2 linked regions of the Homo sapiens genome follow. The protein of the gene in region 1 purifies or fractionates together with the protein of each later gene. This does not show direct contact. Each region holds a gene or a part of one and is shown in the gene's direction. Other genes may lie near its edges.

Region 1 (5,344 bases):
TGGTTGGGAGTGTGGGCGCTGGCTGGGCCAATGTCCTGGCAGCTCAGGGATGGAGTGAGTTTTTCCACTTCTCTCCCAGGCCAGCTAGCTGAAGCAGACACAGCCTCCGCCAGGGCCAGGGCTGGTGGAGTCTCGGCTCCTGGCACCCGGGCAGCCCTGACTCTGATTTGGATATGCCTGGCCACAGAGCTTATCTGGTGTCCAGGAGATGAGAACGTGTGCAGATTCTCTCTGCGCCCAGCCCTGTCTCCTTCCCTCTTTTCCTGATCAGCCCCATTGGGTTCCCATTCCTTCCCCTGTAGGCCCTGCAGGCTCAGGCCCAGGGTCCTGGAGCACCCTGCAGCCTGGGGAGCTTGGGGCAGCTGGCATGGGGCAGGCCTTGCCAGGGAAGGACAGATGCAAATCCAGTGGCTTCCACATGAAAAGTAGCTGTTTAGAATGAGCCTCTCCTTTGTGGGCCTGGAGTGCGGGACCAGCTGCTAAGGAGGCACAAGTGGGGTGGGGGTGGGGAGTGGGGGAGAAGCCACCACCGCCCTTCCTCATCCCTCCTTTTTGCCCCCGCAGAGGCCCCTGGAGGGACTTTGTAATTGGTTTCTGGCTGGCAACCTCCTTCCAATTAATTAATGTAGCAATGGGAGGCTCCCAGGTTTGCTCAGGCTGTCTTTCGTACAGAATACATACATGGGTTACTTCCCTGAATCCCATCAGCTCTGTCATGGTGGGGACGGTCCCCTCTATTTAGGGACGGATAAACAGAGTGTCTGAGTGGAGAGATGACCACACCCTGGTCCCAGAGCTAATGTGGGTCAGAGGCGGGATGCACGCCCAGATCTTCTGGCTTTGAGCCAGAACCTTTTCAATCCGATCACATAATGGTCCACAACCCATGAAGATTAATCACCATCATCATGATAATAACAGTTATTAAGCAGGCGTTGGGCACGCATGATCGCATTTACTCTGTACAACCATGGGGTAGATTCTATTATCCATCCCATTTTCTAGAGGAGGAGAGTGAGGCTTAGTGAGAGTAGGTGAACGGCTCAAGGTCACAGGTTGAATGAATGGGTGGGGAGCAGGGATTTGTACCTGGGCTGTCTGACTCCAGAGAACACTTTCATCTCACTTCCAGGCCTTTGGTCCTGGGGCATGATCGTACTCTGCTTCCACTCCCCACCAACCCCCCACCTACAACACAGTGGGCTATTGTCTGTTGTGTTTGTGGCCCTGCCACTGAGGATGTGCAGGACAAATGCTGGTTGCCTTGAGGGTGATGCCCATGGTTGTGTCCTGCTTAGATTTGCCTGTGGTCTTTACTGGAGCTAGGAGTCATGTAAATGATTCGGGGAAGGGTGCTGGGGGAGGAGGGTGTCCTATACATGGTGTTTGACATCAGATTGGGCTGCTTGGGTAGGGCATTCAGCCGAGGGCAGAACAAAGTATGACAGAGGCAGAGCCGCCTTCTCCATTTCCATGAGGCTAGCTTGGTTCAGAGAACGCAGGTCCCTGGTCCAGGCCTGCAGCCCTTACGAAGCAGCCTTTTCTCGAGTTAGCCCCTGATGATTTGGGGTTCCACTGGCTAGGAATGCTGGCTTTGAAGTCAAACACATGGCAGTCTGTCATTTACTTGCTGTGTATTCTTGGGCAAGTTGCCTCACCTCTCTGAACATCTGTTTCCTCATCCATTCATTGGGATTGATAATAGTAACAATCCTTTACTATTAAGGATTGTTATTAAGATAAAGTGAGCCGATCCATGTGAAGCACTTACCATATGCCTGACATGTAGTGTTAGCTGTTATTCTCAGGAAGACAGAAAATTAATGAGTGTCCTGGGGCTTATGAAATGAGCAGTACAGGGAACTCTGGGAATAGCAGGGGGCCTGACCTAGTCAGAGGGATGAGGAAGTGACTTTAAGTTGAGTCATGAAGGATGAGTAGGAGGTAGCAGGTGAAAGGAGGGGAGCTGAGGAGGGAGCAACAGGCCGGGGATGAATGGGCAAACGTCAGGAGTCAAAAGCCACGGACCTTGATCACTTCCTGCATGCTGGACATTGATGAGAGCATGGTACAAGTATCCACTCATTTAATCCTCAGAGTGACATCATGGCATAGGTTACTGTTATCATCCCTGCTTTACAGATAAGGACACAGGCACAGAGAAGCTAAGTCACCTGTAAAAGGTGGCCCAGTGAGGCAGGATGAGGCTGGTCCAGACCCGGACCTCCGGATTCTGGCCTCTTTCCTTCCCGCTGCCTGCTGCTTGGTGATAGGGAGGGTGGCCTGACCCTGGCTGCTTCTAAAACTGACCCAGGCAAGGGGGTGTGGAAGTGCCAAGTTCAGTTGCCTACCCCGATGCCTCACGGAGCCTCCTTGGGCTGTGTAAAGTGGCCAGAGGCCCTCCTGGCTCTCAGGCAGGAGGGAGAAGTCATTTATTTTTCCAAAAGGAAACTTTGCTCTGGCAGGAAATTTTCCACCTTATATTTTTAGTGGGCTCAATTATGACCATTTTTGTTCTTTAAATCTTTCTTATTATCTATATTGGGCCTTGGTCTTTAAAGTCAAACTATAGGGAGATATGTATACACACACACACACACACACACACACACACACACACACACACACACAATTTTTTTCTAAAGTGTTAAAAGTCCACACCAATAGTCCCAGCTACTCAGGAGGCTGAGGCAGGAGATCATCCTGGGCAACGTAGTGAGACCCCATCTCTAAAACAAACAAACAAAAAAAACCCCCTAAGTGTCTGCAGTTTGGTGTCTGCTCTGTCCGAGCTCAGAGAAGGTGGATGTTTTACATGGTGTTCATGCCACAGGCTTAAACTTACTGTCCCCTGTATGAGATAAGTGTCAACACCCCTGGAGGCTCTGGCTGCCCAGAGCGGTGGTGTGTGGAGGCTCACCCTGGGTAGGTGCTCATGCTAATTGCTGGGAAGCCTCCATGATCAGTATTTAACTCCGGAGATGTCTGAGGTCATCTGGGCCAGCACTCTGCCTGTACGGCACTCTACACTTTTTAGGAATATCACAATGATTCCTAATTTTAATTTAGATTCGTTTAAGAAATACCAATTTAATAGTAGTCAGTTCTCAGCCTTTCACCAGGTGCTAGGCCCCTGCTTTCAAGGGACCAACAGACAATAACAATAACAATAATAATAGAAGCGGCTAACCCTTCCGGAGCACTTAGTTTATGCCAAGCATATACAATATGTTTTATATGTATTAATTCATTTAAGCTTCATGACAGCCTATGAAGTCTGTGCTATTATTATCCCCCTTTCTATGGTTGCAGAAATGGAGGTCCAGGGAAGGAAGGGAGGTAACTTTTACAGTGTTCCCACAGCCAGTCAGGGACTCAGCCTGCCTCGCAGGCCTTCTGTCTTGCCACTTTGTCAGGCTGGTGGGAATGACCCGGAAATATGTGGTCCAGAGCATGGGACCTGGAGGCAGAAGACCCAGGCCTCGCTCTTGCCTCTGCTCCTTACTGTGTGACCTTGGGCTAGTCCCTGGATGTCTCTGAGCGTCTGTGAAAATGAAGTTAGTAGTCTATCTCTGTAGGGTGCTCTAATATTTAAGTAACATGGAAAGATGTAAATAAGGTGCTTTGTAGATGTCATGGCAGGAAATGGTTTATTGTGATGTCTAATCTGTGCCCACTCCTTTCCTCTTCCTCACCAGTATTTCAAGGCCCTCAGATTTAGGCAGTTCCTTCCAATAGCTAGCCCACTTCTCCCCTGCTGTAGTCCTTATTTCAGAATTGATTCATACTCTGTGGGTGGAAGAGAAAAGTTCATCTCTTCCAAACAGCCTCTATCTGTTTTTACTCTGTCAGGCTAGTTTGGTGCAGATGAAAAGTTGCTTTTCTCTCTTCCTGTTCTGTCTATTTTGGCTGTTTTAATATGCTTGGGACAAATAATCTGGCTATAAAAATGTGGTGTCCTGCTTTCATTTGAAAAGTGAGCCAAATAAAGCATCCAAACCTTGATCTGTATTATCCCGGCTCTCTGTAGATCAGAGCTCCCTGTGGAAGGCGAGGGAAGGTGGGTCCCAGAGCACAGTCCTACCTGGGTCCCTGGGCAGAAAGACCAGGTTCCCACTGTCAAATGACCTTGATCTTTGCTCCAGATACCTCCCGATGCCCCCAGCGCTCAGACCTGCTTTTCCTTTAGGTTTATGGAAAGGAATAGCCTCTACTAGCTTGAGGCATTTGCAGCAAATCATTTAAACACCTTGAGTTTGATTTCAGAACTAACAGTTTTATAATCTGGAATCTGGTAGAATCCAGGACGTGGAACGGCTGATGGAAAGAAAGGTGTTGGTGGAAGGGGACAAAGGGATTTAATTCCTGAGGATTTTTATTTAACTCCTGAAAAATTGCTGGTTATGCCTGCCCTGCTGACCTCCAGGTGAAAGACCAGCTTGCAAAAATGCATGGGGAAATTTGGGATTCCGAGAAATTTGGAATTCTGGGAAAGGGGATTTCTGCATACCTGAGTGGCCAACTGATAACTTTATCATCACAAATCTTTCTTCTAGAGACCCTGAGTCTGCCTTCCTGCCTTACTCATTAAAAGATCTGGGAACAAACTCAAGTTATTATGGATTGAGGCTGTTTCAGGGCTTGAGCTGTTCTGTTAAACTGACCTTTTCAGGGTTCGGATCCACATTAATTTCTCAATCCTTGGAGTTCCTGTAGCATGTGATCCCTGGTATACCAGCCAGCAGGTAAAGGCCTAATGTGCCTTGTTTGCTGATTATCTTATGAGCATGATCTTTGGCTCCCTAACTTGTGAGCTTGCTGAAGCTAGAGATTAGGTCTGATTCTTTTTAGTAGCTTTCACAGCATTCATCAAAGGGCTATGCATGCCAGTTAGAGTGTGTTGTGGATTTTTCGAATACCAGGTATAGACATATAAGATTTGGCAGGATTTGGAGCAAACCTAAAACATTCCCTGTTGCTGCTTGGACAAAATCTCTACTGTTAGAGATCTGTGGACTGCTACAGCCGGAAGGGACTTTAAAGATGTACAGTAGAAACGCCCATTTTGCAGAGGAGAAAACTAAAGCCCTAGAAAGTTTTCCCAAGGGGGTATAGGAAAGATGTGGCTGAGTGGGAACTGGGGCTCCCCCAAGTTACTGCTCAGGTTGGGTTTTCCAATTCTGTGGGTTTTTTTCTAGGCTTCTAGTAGTTGCCCGATGTTGGCAGGCCAAGGACTGATTCAAAAGTGGGGAATGGGAGAAAGTTCCAGAAAGGAGACTTTGAGAACTTAACCTAGATGGGAGGAGGCACCTGGTTGGAGAGACTTGGCTCCCCAAGTGACCAA
Region 2 (4,368 bases), on another chromosome or scaffold:
CCCTTCTAGGTAAATCTCTATGGGGTGCCAAATTTTGGTTAAGAATTGCTTATTGAATATTAAAAGTTTAGTGGGATGCTTCTTTTTTTTTTTTCTTTTGAGATGGAGTTTAGCTCTTGTTGCCCAGACTGGAGTGCAATGGTGTGATCTCAGCTCACCGCAACCTCTGCCTCCTGGGTTCAAGTGATTTTCCTGCCTCAGCCTCCCGAGTAGCTGGGAATACAGGCATGTGCCACCACGCCTGGCTAATTTTGTATTTTTAATCGAAATGGGGTTTCTCCATGTTGGTCAGGCTGTTCTCAAACTCCCAACCTCAGGTAATCCACCCGCCTTGGCCTCCCAAAGTGCTGGGATTATAGGCATGAGCCACCGCGCCAAGCCACAGGATGCTTCTAATAGTGTTATCAAGCTATAATGCAGCCCTCTCTGTAAAATGTTTTAAAAACAAATCACTGAGGGTCATGGTTCAAGACACTGTTCTCTGGCAAGGTTGAAGATAGCTAACAAATTCTCTTTGGGTTCCAGCCATGAATGGGGTGGGATGGGCCCCAGCAATCTGTATGTTTCTGAGATTCCCTGGGAATTCTGATGGCCAAGTTTAGAAACCATCAAAATAAGAATATGATGCAACTGAGTAGGCTCACGCTTTGCTAATTACATTGCACACATGCTTTTTGGAGACAACACCCACACTACCCTAACAATGTGTGTTCATAAAACTCATCCGATACTTATTTGTTCAAGGCCCTAGGACAATATTCCTGTAATGGGCTGCTTTTGCCCTGATTTCCTCCTCAGAGTAACTGTCTCGCGGTTGGGCACGATCCCAGATCACATCTACAGTGGAGGTGGTTTTGCTGGGGAGGATCCGCATGCTTGTTTGTGTTTATGCCTGGGGAACCCCCTCTTGGCAAGATGTTCGGGAGAGGCTCCAAAGGCAGCACAGAGGACGGCTTGGAACTTAGGGGGATTCACTTTATGGTAAAGAAGCCCTTTCTAAAGGAGAGCTCCACCCAGGAAACACCACCCACCCACGCATCCTTGCCTCCTAAAACCAGGTTATGTTTATCACATACCTTCTATGTGCTTTACATAAAGAATCCCCTGGAATTCTCCAAACTGGGCATTGTGGTCTGTGATGCATATCTCAAAAGAGGTGAGAGGGTTGGGCACGGTGGCTCACGCCTGTAATCCCAGCACTTTGGGAAGCCAAGGCAGGTGGATCACTTGAGGTCAGAAGCTCAAGACCAGCCTGGCTCACATGGTGAAACGCCGTCTCAACTAAAAATACAAAAATTAGCCGGGCATGATGGCGGGCGCCTGTAATCCCAGCTACTCGGGAGGCTGAGGCAGGAGAATCGCTTGAACCCAGGAGGTGGAGGTTGCTGTGAGCCAAGATTGCACCACTGCACTCCAGCCTGGGTGACAGAGTGAGACTCTGTCTCAAAAAACAAAAAAAAGAAAAAAAAAGGTAGAGGAGAGTCCTTTTTCTAACTTTCTTGAACTCTTTGGACTACCTTGGGATCCTTCTATTAACTGCCTTGTTGGCATTATTCTCAGTTTATGAAAAAACAGGCCCACAGAGTGGAAGTAATTTGCCTACAGGTACATCTAAAAATTGATGAAGCCAGATAGGAACTGCTCCCTCATCATCTGAAACCCTTCCCAGAGCTGTCTCTCCCACCCCAGAAGTAGAAAGAAGCCAGACAAAGATGCATCTTGATCTCCCTTGTGGTTTCAGCAAGGAAGCAGATGAGTTGGAGATGAAGCCCCCAGCCCCTGGGAAATTGGACCCACTTCTTGCTCCAAAGGCTATTGGGGTGACACAAGGTGTGTTTCTTTCCCGTAGATCATATTCACCATATTTTGCCTTTAAATGGAAATTGTGCATCCTGAAGTACCTTGTTAAGAGTCCATTTTCAACCTGAAATTCCTTTTTTTTGTAAACCACTTCAGCAAATACAGTGTGGCATTTACATTAGCAACCTCCCAGCCTAGGAGAGGATGCTCCAGCATCCGACTCTAAAAGACAAATTTGGGCACGGTGGCTTGACGCCTGTTATCCCAACACCTTGAGAGGCCGAGGCAGGCAGATTGCTTGAGCCCAGGAGTTCAAGACCAGCCCAGGTAACATGGTGAACCCCCATCTCTACCAATAATACAAAAATTAGCCAGGCATGGTGGTGTGCCAGTGGTCCCAGCTACTTGAGTGGCTGAGGTGAAGGATCTCCTGAGCCTGGGAGGCAGAGGTTGCAGTGAGCCGAGATCGAACCACTGCACTCCAGCTTATGCAACAGAGCAAGACCGTGTCTCAAAAACAAATAAAAATAAAAGATTTTAAAAAGACAAATTATCCCACAAATGGTACATTGTGGTGGTGGTGGTGGTGGTGGTGGTAGACCTCCCTCTTGCTCTTGAAATTGGATCAGAACAAACTGACAATGCTACCTACTTCATGGGGTCATTGGTGAATTCACTGATAATGCATGCAAATCCCCTTCTGCCTGGCACACTACCTAATAAATAAATGGTGGTTGTTATTGTTGGAATTGGAGGATATATTCCTAGTTGCAAGGGTTTCACATGTATTACCAAGTTAATCCTCACCGCAGATATGATTCTGTTTTACAGAGGAAGCAGTGGATGCTCAGAGAGGTTAGGTAACGTGGGTCAGGGACACACAGCCAGGAAGGGGCAGAGGCTGGGAGTGCCTGACTCCAAATTCATGCAATTTCTACCCCACCATCTTCTCCCCAAGGAAAATAGTCCCTAATGCATGTGTGCAATGCTTAGAGGGCAGTAGATGCTCAACAGATGCTGAGAGAGTGAGGGAGTAAATGAGATATGCCATGAAAAGGAGCCCCTGTGGACTTATGCGTGCGTTTGTTTAACTTGTGGGCAAGTACTTATAGACAGGTGCAAACAATAAATCTCCTTTTGCAACTGAGAACTTGTTGTTCAGTATGAGTTTTGATACATATAAGAAAGGCTATTATGATACCTAAGACAGTTAACTAAGGGAGGGAGTATTGATAACCATAAGTGTTAGTTGCAGGCTGGGCACAGTGGCTCATGCCTGCAGTCCTCTCACTTTGAGAGGCTGAGGTGGGAGGATTGCTTGAAGCCAGGAGTTCAAGACCAGCCTGGGCAAGAAAGCAACACCCCATCTCCACAAAACTTTAAAAGTTAGCTGGGTGTGGGGGCATGTGCCTATAGATGTAGCTACTCTAAAGGGGAGGCTGAGGCAGGAGGATTGCTTGAGCCCAGGAGTTGGAGACTGCAGTGAGCTTTGATGGCACCACTGTACTCCAGCCTAGTCAACAAAGTAAAACTTGTCTCTTAAAAAAAAAAAAAAAAACAAAAAAAAAGGTTCTAGGACTGTAGAATCATTAGCTTAAAAGCATAGGATTTGAGGGAAAACCTCAGTTATATTAATTTCGTATTCCAATTTCATGTTGACTTGATTTTTTATAAAGATCTTTTTTAAAAAGGAGCCCCTGCTTCATTTGCCAAAGCTTGGAACGTTTGGGGACACCCATGACTGGCTAAACCAAGTTCCACTGGGGCTGGGGCCATGTCTCAAGTCACTTCTGAGACTGGCAAGGGCCTGGCATATTGGGACTGAACCCCAGGTCGATGCTAGGCATTTGCTGTGAATCAAAGAATCCTGAGTTTTTCAGAGTCCAGAAGAATCTGAAAGGTCAACCAAGCCAAGCCCTTTATAACATCCACTCATTCTGGCATTCCTCTCTGGTTCATGGAGCCCCTGCTGTGGGCCAGGCACTGAGGAAAAGAAGAGGCAGTCTATGTCATCCCGGGGATCCTGACAGAAAGCCCTCTGTGAAAGAAAGAAAACTCACCACCTGCTAACAGCAATGGTTTAGACAGGGAGGATTCAAGGCTTATTTTGTTCCTTCTTTTGTCTGTCTTCCAAAATCTCTGCAACAGAATTATGTTACTTTTTTTTCTTTTTTTTGAGATGGAGTCTCGCTCTGTTGCCCAGGCTGGAGTGCAATGGTGTGATCTCGGCTCACTGCAACCTCCGCCTCCCGGGTTCAAGCAATTCTCCTACCTCAGCCTCCCGAGTAGCTGGAATAACAGGCATGCACTACCACACCTGGCTAATTTTTGTATTTTTAGTAGAGATGGGGTTTTGTCATGTTGGCCAGGCTGGTCTCAAACTCCTGACCTCAGGTGATCCACCTGCCTTGGGCTTTCAAAGTGCTGGGATTACAGGTGTGAGCCACCACATCCGGCTTTTTTTTTTTTTTTAGACAGAGTCTCTCTCTGTCACCCAGGCTGTAGTGCAGTAGCCCAATCTTGGCTCACTGCAACCTCTGCCTCCTGAGCTCAAGTGATTCGCCTGCC

What was found. The genes of interacting proteins can lie anywhere in the genome.
Region 2: the proteins of CORO2B (region 1) and SSH1 purify together in Homo sapiens (co-immunoprecipitation; one large-scale study listed by IntAct). This does not show direct contact.

Annotation. Positions count from the first base shown.
Region 1 is NC_000015.10:68,584,466-68,589,809, forward strand, and holds part of CORO2B (coronin-2B), read left to right. Parts: intron 1-5,344. UniProt on the Homo sapiens protein: May play a role in the reorganization of neuronal actin structure.
Region 2 is NC_000012.12:108,776,770-108,781,137, reverse strand, and holds the end of SSH1 (protein phosphatase Slingshot homolog 1), read left to right. Parts: 3' UTR 1-2,947; downstream 2,948-4,368. UniProt on the Homo sapiens protein: Protein phosphatase which regulates actin filament dynamics. Dephosphorylates and activates the actin binding/depolymerizing factor cofilin, which subsequently binds to actin filaments and stimulates their disassembly.